Linked DNA regions of Homo sapiens. The protein of the gene in region 2 purifies or fractionates together with the protein of the main gene of each other region. This does not show direct contact. Each region holds a gene or a part of one and is shown on either strand. Other genes may lie near its edges. The genes, in order: NAA20, SWAP70 and RANBP3.

Region 1 (3,552 bases), on a different chromosome or scaffold from region 2:
TTTTATATTTGTATAATCATATCTGTGCAAAATAAGTAAGTTTTGTTTCCTCTCATATGTAAATACAATTGATTTTTATACTGACTTTATATCCAACAACTTTGCCTTTTATTAATTCTAAATATTTATATTCTTATGGATTTTATATTTATATAATCATATCTGTGCAAAATAAGTTTTGTTTCCTCTCAATCCTCCTATCGTTTATTTTTTCCTGCTTTCCTGTGCTATAATTTCTAGTAAATTACTGAAGCGGGACTAACTTGTCCCTAATTTCAAAAGGAAAGCATTCAGTGTATCACTACTAAATATATTTACTACAAATTTCTTGTAGATATTTTTCAGGTTAAGGAAGTTCCCCCTTTCTATTTCCCAGTTTGCTAACAGTTTTTATCAGGAAGGAATATTGGATTTTATCAAGTTTGCTGCACTTTCTAAAATAACCAGTGTTCTCCTTTAGTGTAAAGTTGAAACCACCTTGTTCCTGATGTGTCATCCTATTTATGTAGTGCCAAATCCACTTTGCTAATTATTTTTCCGAGATTTTGCATCTGAGTGAGATGTTCCTCGAATTTTCCTTTCCCATATTTTGCCAAGTATTGTTATCAAGGTTATCCTGGCCTTAAAAAATAAGTTGAGGAATGTTCCCTTTTTTGGCTTGTGCAAAATAGTTTGTGTAAAAGTGACCTTTCAGTCATTATTTCTTAAATGTTTAGTAAAATTGGCCAGAGAAGCCACAGCTTTCTTCGTGAAAAGATTTTGGGCTACTGATTGAAATTCTTTAGGGCAGGGGTTGGCTTATAACCTATTTTGCTACTGCCTTCAAGCTAAGAATGGTTTTTGCAATGGTTGTTAAAAACAAAACAAAACAAAACAAAACAAAAAACTATGTAACCAAGACTTTAGGTGGCCTGTAATGCCTGAATATTTACTATCTGACCCAGAAGAAAATTGCTGATTCTTGTTCTATAGGCTTGACAAATTTCTATCTCATTGTTCTATCAATTAGAAAAAAGCATGTCTAAATCTCCCATTATAATAATAATTTGTCTATTTCTCCTTGTAGTTTTGTCAATTTGTGCATTTTTACTTTGAAATGATGTCACTTGGTATATACCATTTTAAATCGCTATTTTTTTTTTTTTTTTTGAGATGGAGTCTCGCTCTGTTGCACAGGCTGGAGTGCAATGGCGTGATCTTGGCTCACTGTAATCTTCGCCTCCCAGGTTCAAGCAATTCTCCTGCCTCAGCCTCCCGAGTAGCTGGGATTACAGTCACGTGCTACCACACCCGGCTAATTTTTGTATTTTTAGTCGAGACGGGATTTCACCATGTTGGCCAGACTGGTCTGGAACTCCTGACCTCAAGTGATCCACCTGTCTCGGCCTCCCAAGGTGCTGGGATTACAGTCATGAGCCACCACTCCCAGACTTGTTACTTCCTTGATTAAATATTTTATCAATATGCAGTGACCCTTTTTTATGCTGGTAATAATTATTCAACTATAACTATTATTAATAAGTATTCTAACTTTCTTTTGGTTAGAATTTGCAAGGTAATTTAAAAATTTACTTTCAATCTTTCTGTATTAAAAATATTTTAATATATTTTACACATATTTCCTGTAAACAATACAGACAGCCTTTGTCTTTTAAATAGAGTCATCATAGCTGGCCGTGCATGGTGGTGGGCGCCTGTAATCCCAGCTACTCAGAGGGTGAGAGAGGAAAATCATTTGAGCCTGGGAGGCAGACGTTGCAGTGAGCTGAGATCACGCCACTGCACTCCAGCCTGAGCAACAGAGCAAGACCCCATCTCCAAAACTAATAATAAATAAATAAAGTCCTAAGTCCATTAACGTTTACTGTTGTAATTACTGACAATATTTGGATTCTGGGCTACCATTTTATTTCATGCATTTTGTTTTGCTGGTTTAATTTCCTTTTTCTCTTCTTTGGAGTTGACTTCTATCATTCAATTTTTCTTCTCCTCTACTTGTTTGGTTTCTATTTTTAATGTATACATTGTATGCACTATGTATACATGTATATAGTGTATATAAGCATATGTATATGTATCATGTATGTGTATATGTATATATATGCCTACAAATGAAGATTACTTAAATCTTAGCAACTAGTCTAAAATAATGAAGGCTTAGAAACTGGAAGGGAAGAGAGCTTAGTGGTCTTCTACTCAGAGGGAGAATCTATCATACAAATACCCTAAATTATATGTGCAAGGTCATAGCTAGTTACGACCTGCTTTTTTTTATTATTATTATACTTTAAGTTCTGGGATACATGTGCAGAACGTGCAGGTTTGTTACATAGGTATACGCGTGCCATGGTGGTTTGCTGCACCCATCAACTCGTCATCTACATTAGGTATTTATCCTAATTCTATCCCTCCCTTAGACCCCCACCCCCGACAGGCCCTGGTGTGTGATGTTCCCCTCCCTGTGTCCATGTGTTCTCATTGAACAACCCACTTTCTAACTCCCTGTTCACTATACAATAATGCCAAATACTTTTTTTCAACATAATGCCATTAATAAATGTGTGTAAACTATAATCATGCTAAAATTTTCTTCCCTTCTTTGTTTGGTCTAGAGAGAACTTTAAAAAATCTTAAAGATTAGCACCGACTTCTTTTTCAGCTAACACAATTTCTTCTCTGAATGAGTTTGAGCTCCTTTGCCTCTAATTTGGCTTGAAGTCTTTGTCAGGCCACAGATACTTCTTTAAAACTTGCCTTTATTAAATCTAATAATTAAGTAGAAATTAAGCTCAAGAACCCTTCTCAGCAACTATTCTCTTTCCTACCACACTTTTAGGAAATTACAGTGGAGAAAGAAATGGCAGCTTGACAACAGGTGAAGCTACTACAAACATCTCTCTTCTAGAATGAAGATACGAGGAGGGGCCTTCTCTTCTATTTATTGTATTTCTTTTATCTCCAGTAATGAAGAGGTTTGATATATACAACACGTCCCTTAAAAAAAAAAAAAAAAATGCCATGCTGGCAGTTCGCAAACTGTGCACTCAGGTGCCCTAAGGTGTCCCAAACTCATACAGCCACCAAAGGATATTTCGAATGTTCAGGGAAAACAGCAAAACCTTACATGTCAGATATTGGCAAACTAGTTTGAAGTAGTTCACAAATTCAACGTAAGATCATGCTACATTCCTCTTAATGACATAATATTTCTATGAAGCTGAGTTTCTGGCAGTTGCTGTGATTAAAAAAAAATACTAGATGAAAATCAATATGAAACAGGAATGCAAGTGGTTCTGCCAAGTCATTTAATGTCCAACAGGTGCACACCTCTCATTGGTAGCTAGCCACAGTTATTTAAGAATGAAATGAAAATATTTCTTCTTTCAATTTATTTTTTTTCTAAATGGCTATTAGCTGTTAGGCTATAAATACTTATTAAACAGTTAGAATATAACTGCTTAAGACTGAACTATTTTCTTTTGGCCGAGGAGCACTGCTAAAAATTTATTCAGATGCCAAAGCAATGGTAACAGATTTTAGGAATGTGTGCCA
Region 2 (3,655 bases):
AGCAGGAGCCAGAGAAGCTCATATTCACAAAGCTGGTAAAGCAGCCTATATGTCCTGCTCTAAGCTCTCTCAGTTTCACCCGTTTGTGAAATAAAAAATAACATTTATCCAGAGTTTAATGTGTGCCAGGAACTGGCCTAAGAGTCAAGTGTATTTTCTCAATTAATCCTCACAGTAAATTTAGGTGCTGCTACTCATATTTTAGAGATGGTGCAAGTGAGACACAAAGGTTCAGTGGCCTGTACTAGGATCATCCACCTGCCAGGTGGCAGGGCCAAGATTTGAAGTTTGCCTGGTTGCTACAACATGAAAACATTTTCATCTAGTAAAAACCTGTTACCATGGAAAAAGCTGATAATGAAGATGAAGAAAGGAGTGAACGCAGACAGAATAGAGATACTATTTATTGAACAATTGCTACATGCCAGGCCCTTGCCTCCATTATTGCTAATCCCCTGACAATCCTGAAAGGTATTGTCCCTACATTACAGATGAAGCAATGAAAAACCAAAGGGTTTAAAAGTATGTTGCACAGGTTATAATGGATTTTAACCCAGGTCTGTGTGACTCCAAAATAACAGGAATACCTATCTGGGAATACCCAGCTATGTAGTTGTTTAAATAAACTAACAAACAGCCAAAACCTGCATTAAAGTGTATATAGTGTCGTTCGATGCCAGCCAAGGACAGGATACATATCTAGTGGCTTGAGCAACAATATTATGGTAACAAAGTCAAGTCACATGACTGGTCAGTTACTACTACCTGCCAGCATCTGCTCTTATAAAACTAACAACAAAGGAATAAAGTAACAGACTATACCAACACCAATTTCCAAATTCCCTCTACAACTTCCTGCAAGGTTGTTATTCAACTCAGCTCCAATACTCTAGGTGATGGGCTACCACTCGTTGCCTCACAAATTGGGCCAGTTTATTTATGGGCAGCTTCAATTCTTACGAAGTTTTTTCTTATACTAAGATGAGTTCTCCCATCCACTACCCTAGTTCCACAAAGGAAGTATCTACTCCCTCTTCCCTGTGATAGCCCTTTCGCAACTGGAAGGCAGCTTTGTTGCCTGTTGAGAACATCCTTCTCCAAGAAGACCACCTCCAGCCTTAACTAATGGGACCCAGCTTCCAGACTCAATATCCTTCTTTGGAGACACTGAGGTCTCCTCAGATGTCTCTTGGAGTTTGATGTACACAACAGAACACGACACTACAGATGTGGTCTGACCAGTGCAGAGTTTATTCACTCAGTTGATGTGTATTTTTTATGTGCCTTCTACGTGCTTTTCTAGGCACTGGGGATATAAGAATGAACAAGACTGGATGGGTCTGTTTTTTCATTCTAGTGGTAAAAGTATGGAGGGGGAATGGACATTTCCAGGTGCTTAGGCTGCCCAGCCTCTGAACTCCTTCATGTGTCTAGGGGAACTGCCATAGTAGAAGACTTGATGGAAGGTAGGGCTCATTTCCCGCTATAGAATCCACAGGCCAGACACCTGCCCTCCCACCCCTTGGCAGCTAGGGTATGGTGGAGGCACAAGCTGGGCTTGGCTATGTAGATGCTCCTTCTGGAACTTTGACTCTGAAGCACCTGGCACAAAGAAGCAGAGCCAGTAGAGAATTCATCTTGCCGGTGGCAGTAATATGCAGTGTTGAGTGACAGCAGGAGCGATGGCACTGCTGATGCCTGGTACCAACATGGGCGCCAGCGGCATCCTCACTGGACTCTTCCCATGGCCTGGCTTGGGCTGTAGTTGGGGCTGCTCATCCCCCTGTGATTCCTGCCTGTGTTCAAGGCCTGGTCACCTGCCTTTCTGTGGAACTGGCAAACTATTTAAGAAACTTTCAACAAATTGTTTTATTGCTTTAGCTAATACAAGGTGGTTTCTGTGGTTCGCAAGTAAGACTCCTGACTAAAGACTTCAGTGCCTCACTCTTTTTCTGTGTATCGGCTTCCTCATTTATCAAAAAAGGAATAGAAACTACACCTACCATCAAAGGTTTATTAGTGTATTAAATGCGATAATGCACATAAGGTGTTTACATGCCTACCACACAGCAAGTACTGGTAGGTAACAGCTCATATTATAGAGGGACAATTATCTCATTTGCTCTGGACACTTCACATTCATTAAGGCTGCCTAAGAGTGTATAGGGTTTTGGCAACCACATTTCAGGGAAATGAAACTGTAGAACTTTTCAAATGAATTTCTATAAAGCCAAGTCTCCTGGATCCTGTACTTGTTCTTTTGATATGTTAAATTAGCTTCTTGGTCTAAAATCATCATTCTAGCCTGTCAACATCTTTTTTCTGAATGCTTATTTTTACATTCCACACATTATATATCTTCCCCGTCTGCAAATGAGATAAAGGAACAGAAAGCAACACACTCGGAGTGACTCCCAAATGCTAGGCATTACTCTAAAACACTCTGCATGCATCATTTCATTTCATCCTCACAACAACTGTATAAAGTTGGCCATTCTCTCAAGTTACACAGCTAAAAGTACCAGAGCCAGGAATCAAACCGTGGCCTCATTCCAGAGCCCAGTCTCTAACCTTCAAATATATGAAAAGTATTATATCAAATGTAAGAGGGACTGTTGTTCCATGTGGTCCCATTGGATCCATTCATTCATTCAAAAAAATTTCCCTGGGTACTTACTGTGTGCCAGGTACGAGTTGCTGGGAATACAGACACGACTAAGGTGTACTCCAGGGTGTTACAGATCCAAAGTGGGTAAGAGTTACAACAGGACAGATTATGGCTCAGCCTCAAGAACTTTCCAATAACTCGATTTTTCTTAATTTTTTCTTTTTTGTTTTTTTCTTTTTTGAGACAGGCTGGAGTACAGTGGTGCAATCTCAGCTCACTGCAACCTCTACCTCCTGGATTCAAGTGTCTCAGCCTCCCGAGTAGCTGGGATTATAGGCATGCACCACCACGCCCAGCTAATTTTTGTATTTTTAGTAGAGACAGGGTTTCACCATGCTGGCCAGGCTGGTCTCAAACTCCGAGCCTCAAGGGATCCGCCCGCCTCAGCCTCCCAAAGTGCTGGGATTAGAGCGTGAGCCACCATGTCCGGCCAATAACTTGAGTATTCTACATTTTAAATGAACAGTTTTCTTCTGAGTTCTCATTCAGAAGTGGCTAGATCACCTTCAGGATTACACATAAAAAAATAAACTTCATAGCAGAAAGGGTGACTATAGTCAATCATAATTTAATTGTACATTTAAAACTAACTAAAACAGTATAGTGGACTGTTTGTAAGACTAAGGATAAATGCTTGAGGTGATGGATACCCCATTTACCCTGATGTGATTATTACACATTGTATGCCTGTATCAAAATATCTCATGTACCTCACAAATATAAACACCTACTGTGTACCCACAAAAATTAAAAGTTAATAAAAAACTTCAATCGTAATTTTTAAAATTACAAGATCTGGCCAGGTGCAGTGGCTCAAGCCTGTAATCCCAGCACTTTGGGAGGCCGAGGCGGGTGGATCACGAGGTCAGGAGATCAAGACCATCCCGGCTAACACGGTTAAACCCCGTCTCTACTAAAAATACAAAAAATTAGCTGGGCGTGGTGGCAGGCGCCTGTAGTCCCAGCTGCTCAGGAGGCTGAGGCAGG
Region 3 (3,655 bases), on a different chromosome or scaffold from region 2:
AGATGTTGGGGGCGACCCATGGGGGAACTCCTGGTACCGTCTTTGGGAAAGTGGGGAAGAGGCTTCCCCTCCCGCCCCACACACACACAGAGTCTCAGACTGGTTACAGGCCTCGGGATTCGTTTATCAGTTTAAGCGAATCCTCTAAGCAGGCTCCGCCAGGTCATAGACATACCCTGTAGTCAGAAACATTTTGCTGTTTGCCTGCCCCATCTCAGGTGACTCTGTGGGCTCCACCCACCCGGGATTAGCACCAGTCGGTGTGAGCAGGGGGCACACAGCGCAGAAAGCCAAGAGCCAGGGAGTGTTTCTGCTGGACGGGATGCAGGCGGCCCCAGTGGGGCTGGGGATTAGCCCATCCTCTGAGGACTTCCAGGTCGCCAAACACGTTGTGTGTTTAATTTTAAAAAGCCACGTTCACTCTTGCACAGGCACAAGGATGCAGCGTGAAGTCAGCAGTAGCAGAATTTCTAGGGAGCACAGTAGAGAAACATTTACACTTTTCACTTCCTTCACAGTTGGACCAGAAAGTGCCCTCAGCGCTGTGATCCGCTGATTCTGGGCCTGGCATTGTAACTCCAGGCTTCCCTGCCCGCTGGACACGCTGAGCCAGTCAGAAGCTGCCTGCAGCCTTTCTCACCTCCGAGTTCACGGTTGTCAGGTCCCTTCACGACATCTCCCAGGAAAACACTCCCTGCCTCACGTTCATGTCCACTGTACACATCGCCAGAGACTCCAAAGATCTGCCAAAAGCCTTTTAAAATTTCTTTTCAAATTCTACAACACCTTTTTCATCATGTGGTATAGGAAAGACATATACAAATTACTAGCAACTCCATATTCCATTATCTCAAGATAAATGCATTTGGTCTTAGGATATTTAGTTACAAAAAAGTCATGCCTACATGTTGAAAATATTTACACAAAATGGAAATCCTAGAAAGTAACAAGCAGGAGCCACCCTCCAGCTAAGAGGTTCCCGGGTAACCTCCGTCAGTAGTTTGAATTCTCTCTCCCGACTTATTTTCCTGGGCATTCCTCAACACACATACACACCACACATACACACACACACACACCACACACACGGGACTGGATTGGCTTTAACAGAAATGGAATCGCACTTCCGTGTCCCACAAGCTGCTCTCTTCTCTGATCCATGTATTGTGGGCATGTCAGAGGCCTACCTCCCTCTCGGTGGTAATAGCTGTGCTGTACTTTTTTTCCCCCATATTTTCTATTGTAAATTATTTCATTCCTTGGCCAATGATGAGCAACCAGGTTATTTCCTGTCCTCTGCCGGCACTAAGGCTTCTGCAGGGCACAGGTGTTTCTTGTTGTTTGGAGACAGGTTTTTGCTCTGTCACCCAGGCTGGAGTGCAGTGGTGTGATCTCAGCTCACTACAACTCCCAGGCTCAAGCAGTCCTCCTGTCTCAGCCTTCTGAGTAGCTGGGAGTGCAGGCACATGCAGAGGAGACGTGTGGAGTACATGATCTGGTGTGGGATTGCTGGGCATCCGTCTGGGCCAAGTGTGGCACTGGTTTTGATTACTCTGTTTTGTTTTGGTTTTTGATAGGAGAAAGAGCCCCAGAAAAATGAGTCCAGCAATGCCTCTGAAGAGGAAGCCTGTGAGAAAAAAGACCCCGCCACACAGCAAGCCTTTGTATTTGGGCAGAACTTGAGGGACAGAGTTAAGGTATGTGAGCTGTTGAACCAGCACATTGACTTTTTATGCCTTCCCCAGGTTCAACAGCAGGCAAGTAGGTAGATTTTCCTTTTAACAGGGGAGGGGAGCGTGGGACAAAGAAGGTGTTAGCGAGGCAGCCCCATGGCTCACGGCACAGTCTGCTGCTGGTGTGCGTGTGCTGGGCCCTGGCACTTCCCCACCAGCAGCCCAGGCTTCGGAGCCCTCACCTGCAGTGACTTCTCAAGTCAGGGTCCCTGGTTCTCATGGTAGCGGGGACAGGGAAGGTGACTGAACCTGAGGCCTCAGGCTTTCATAGCAGAGAAGAAAGACAGCACGGTCCAGTGTTCTCAGCTCTGCCCAGAGGTTTCTGTTCCCGTATTTCAGGGTTTCTCTGTTTCAGCACTAGCAGCATTACGGCTGGACCATTCTTAGTTTCTGAGGAGTCGCCCTGGGCACTGCAGGGTGCTGAGCAGCATCACTGGCCTCCACCCACCCAATGCTCCTGACATCTGACAACCACAAATGTCCCCAGACGTGGCCAGTATTCCCTGTGGAGTAGAATCGCCCCCATTAAGAACTGTCACCTTATTTTTTTTTAAGTGGGGCAGGGTGGGGTGACAACACTGTCTTCTCTCCTGAAAGGGAGCAAAGCGTCTGCCACCTCTTGGCTGCCCTCCAGACATGTGGTCCTAGTTTGGAGATTGTGTGGTGGGGAAGGGATGGCAGTGGTTGGAAACAGTGGCCCTGGACCATGCACTGGGACTCTAGGAAGACCAGGGTCAGCCAGCACCACCTTTCCCAGCCACAGACATGGAATGTGCTACGGCATCTCTAGCAGCTCCACTGGCAAGAAGCTTCTTTCAAAGCTCGAGAGGCGGTATCGGTGGCTGTGTCTAGAGACTTTTGTGGTTGTCACAACTGGGAGGTACTTCTGGAGGTCAGGGATGCCACTCCGCCCCTTGCAGTGCCCAGGATAGCCACACCACAGGGAATGTTCTGGGCCCAGTGTCAACATGTCAGTAGTGTCGACGGGGAGGGCCCTGAAATAAACAAAAACCTCTCTAGCATGCAGAAAGCACCGGCTTGTGTTTTCTGCTTTCCTTTCTGTTACTCACCGTCCAACAGAAGCCCAAGTCGAGAAACGTGGAAAGTTGATGTTGCTGTTGCCATGGCTTTAGGCAAAATAATGAGTCCCTCAGGGGCTGTTCCCTCCAAGGAGGGAGGGCAAGAGGCGGGGAAGGGCTTGGCCTGTGGAGTTCAGGCCCTGTGGAATCTCTGCCTTGAGTCTGGGGAGACAGCTGCTTTGAATTTGGTGGGGTTGGCTTCTTGCAGAAGTCAGAGGCTTACGTGCACTTCGCAGTCTCAGTCAAATCCCAGCCTCTCCTTCCAGGGCAAACTTGAGCCATGGATTCTTTTTTTTTCTTTGGACACGAAGTCTTGCTGTGTCGCCCAGGCTGGAGTGCAGTGGCATGATCTCTGCTCACTGCAACCTCCACCTCCTGGGTTCAAGCGATTCTCCTGCCTCAGCCTCCCAAATATCTGGGATTACAGGCGCCCACTGCCACATCCAGCTAATTTTTTGTATTTTTAGTAGAGGTGGGGATTTCTCCATGTTGGCCAGGCTGGTCTCGAATTCCTGACCTCAAGTGATTCCCCGCCGCCTCAGCCTCCCAAAGTGCTGGTATTACAGGCACGAGCCACCGCGCCCAGCCAGAGCCATGGTTTCTTAACCCTCTGAGCCTCTGCTTCCTTGTTGGTCAAACAGGGTCCCTAACATCCCCCTCCCAGGCCTCGTGAGGATTAAAGCAGATCGTGCATTTGACAGACTCAGCATAGCAGCTGGTAGGAAAGAGGCCCTCAAGAAATTCTGCTTCTATCATGTTCATAGTAAACCCCCCAAAACGTCAGCTTTGTAACGTTGTGTTATTGGTATGAAGCATTGACCGAGAGGCCAGCTTAGGCGTGGT

The links.
Region 1: the proteins of SWAP70 (region 2) and NAA20 fractionate together in Homo sapiens (co-fractionation; one large-scale study listed by BioGRID). This does not show direct contact.
Region 3: the proteins of SWAP70 (region 2) and RANBP3 fractionate together in Homo sapiens (co-fractionation; one large-scale study listed by BioGRID). This does not show direct contact.

The regions. Positions count from the first base shown.
Region 1 is NC_000020.11:20,027,214-20,030,765, reverse strand, and holds part of NAA20 (N-alpha-acetyltransferase 20), read right to left. Parts: intron 1-3,552. UniProt on the Homo sapiens protein: Catalytic subunit of the NatB complex which catalyzes acetylation of the N-terminal methionine residues of peptides beginning with Met-Asp, Met-Glu, Met-Asn and Met-Gln. Proteins with cell cycle functions are overrepresented in the pool of NatB substrates.
Region 2 is NC_000011.10:9,744,072-9,747,726, reverse strand, and holds part of SWAP70 (switch-associated protein 70), read right to left. Parts: intron 1-3,655.
Region 3 is NC_000019.10:5,926,010-5,929,664, reverse strand, and holds part of RANBP3 (ran-binding protein 3), read left to right. Parts: intron 1-1,577; coding exon 1,578-1,697; intron 1,698-3,655. UniProt on the Homo sapiens protein: Acts as a cofactor for XPO1/CRM1-mediated nuclear export, perhaps as export complex scaffolding protein. Bound to XPO1/CRM1, stabilizes the XPO1/CRM1-cargo interaction. In the absence of Ran-bound GTP prevents binding of XPO1/CRM1 to the nuclear pore complex.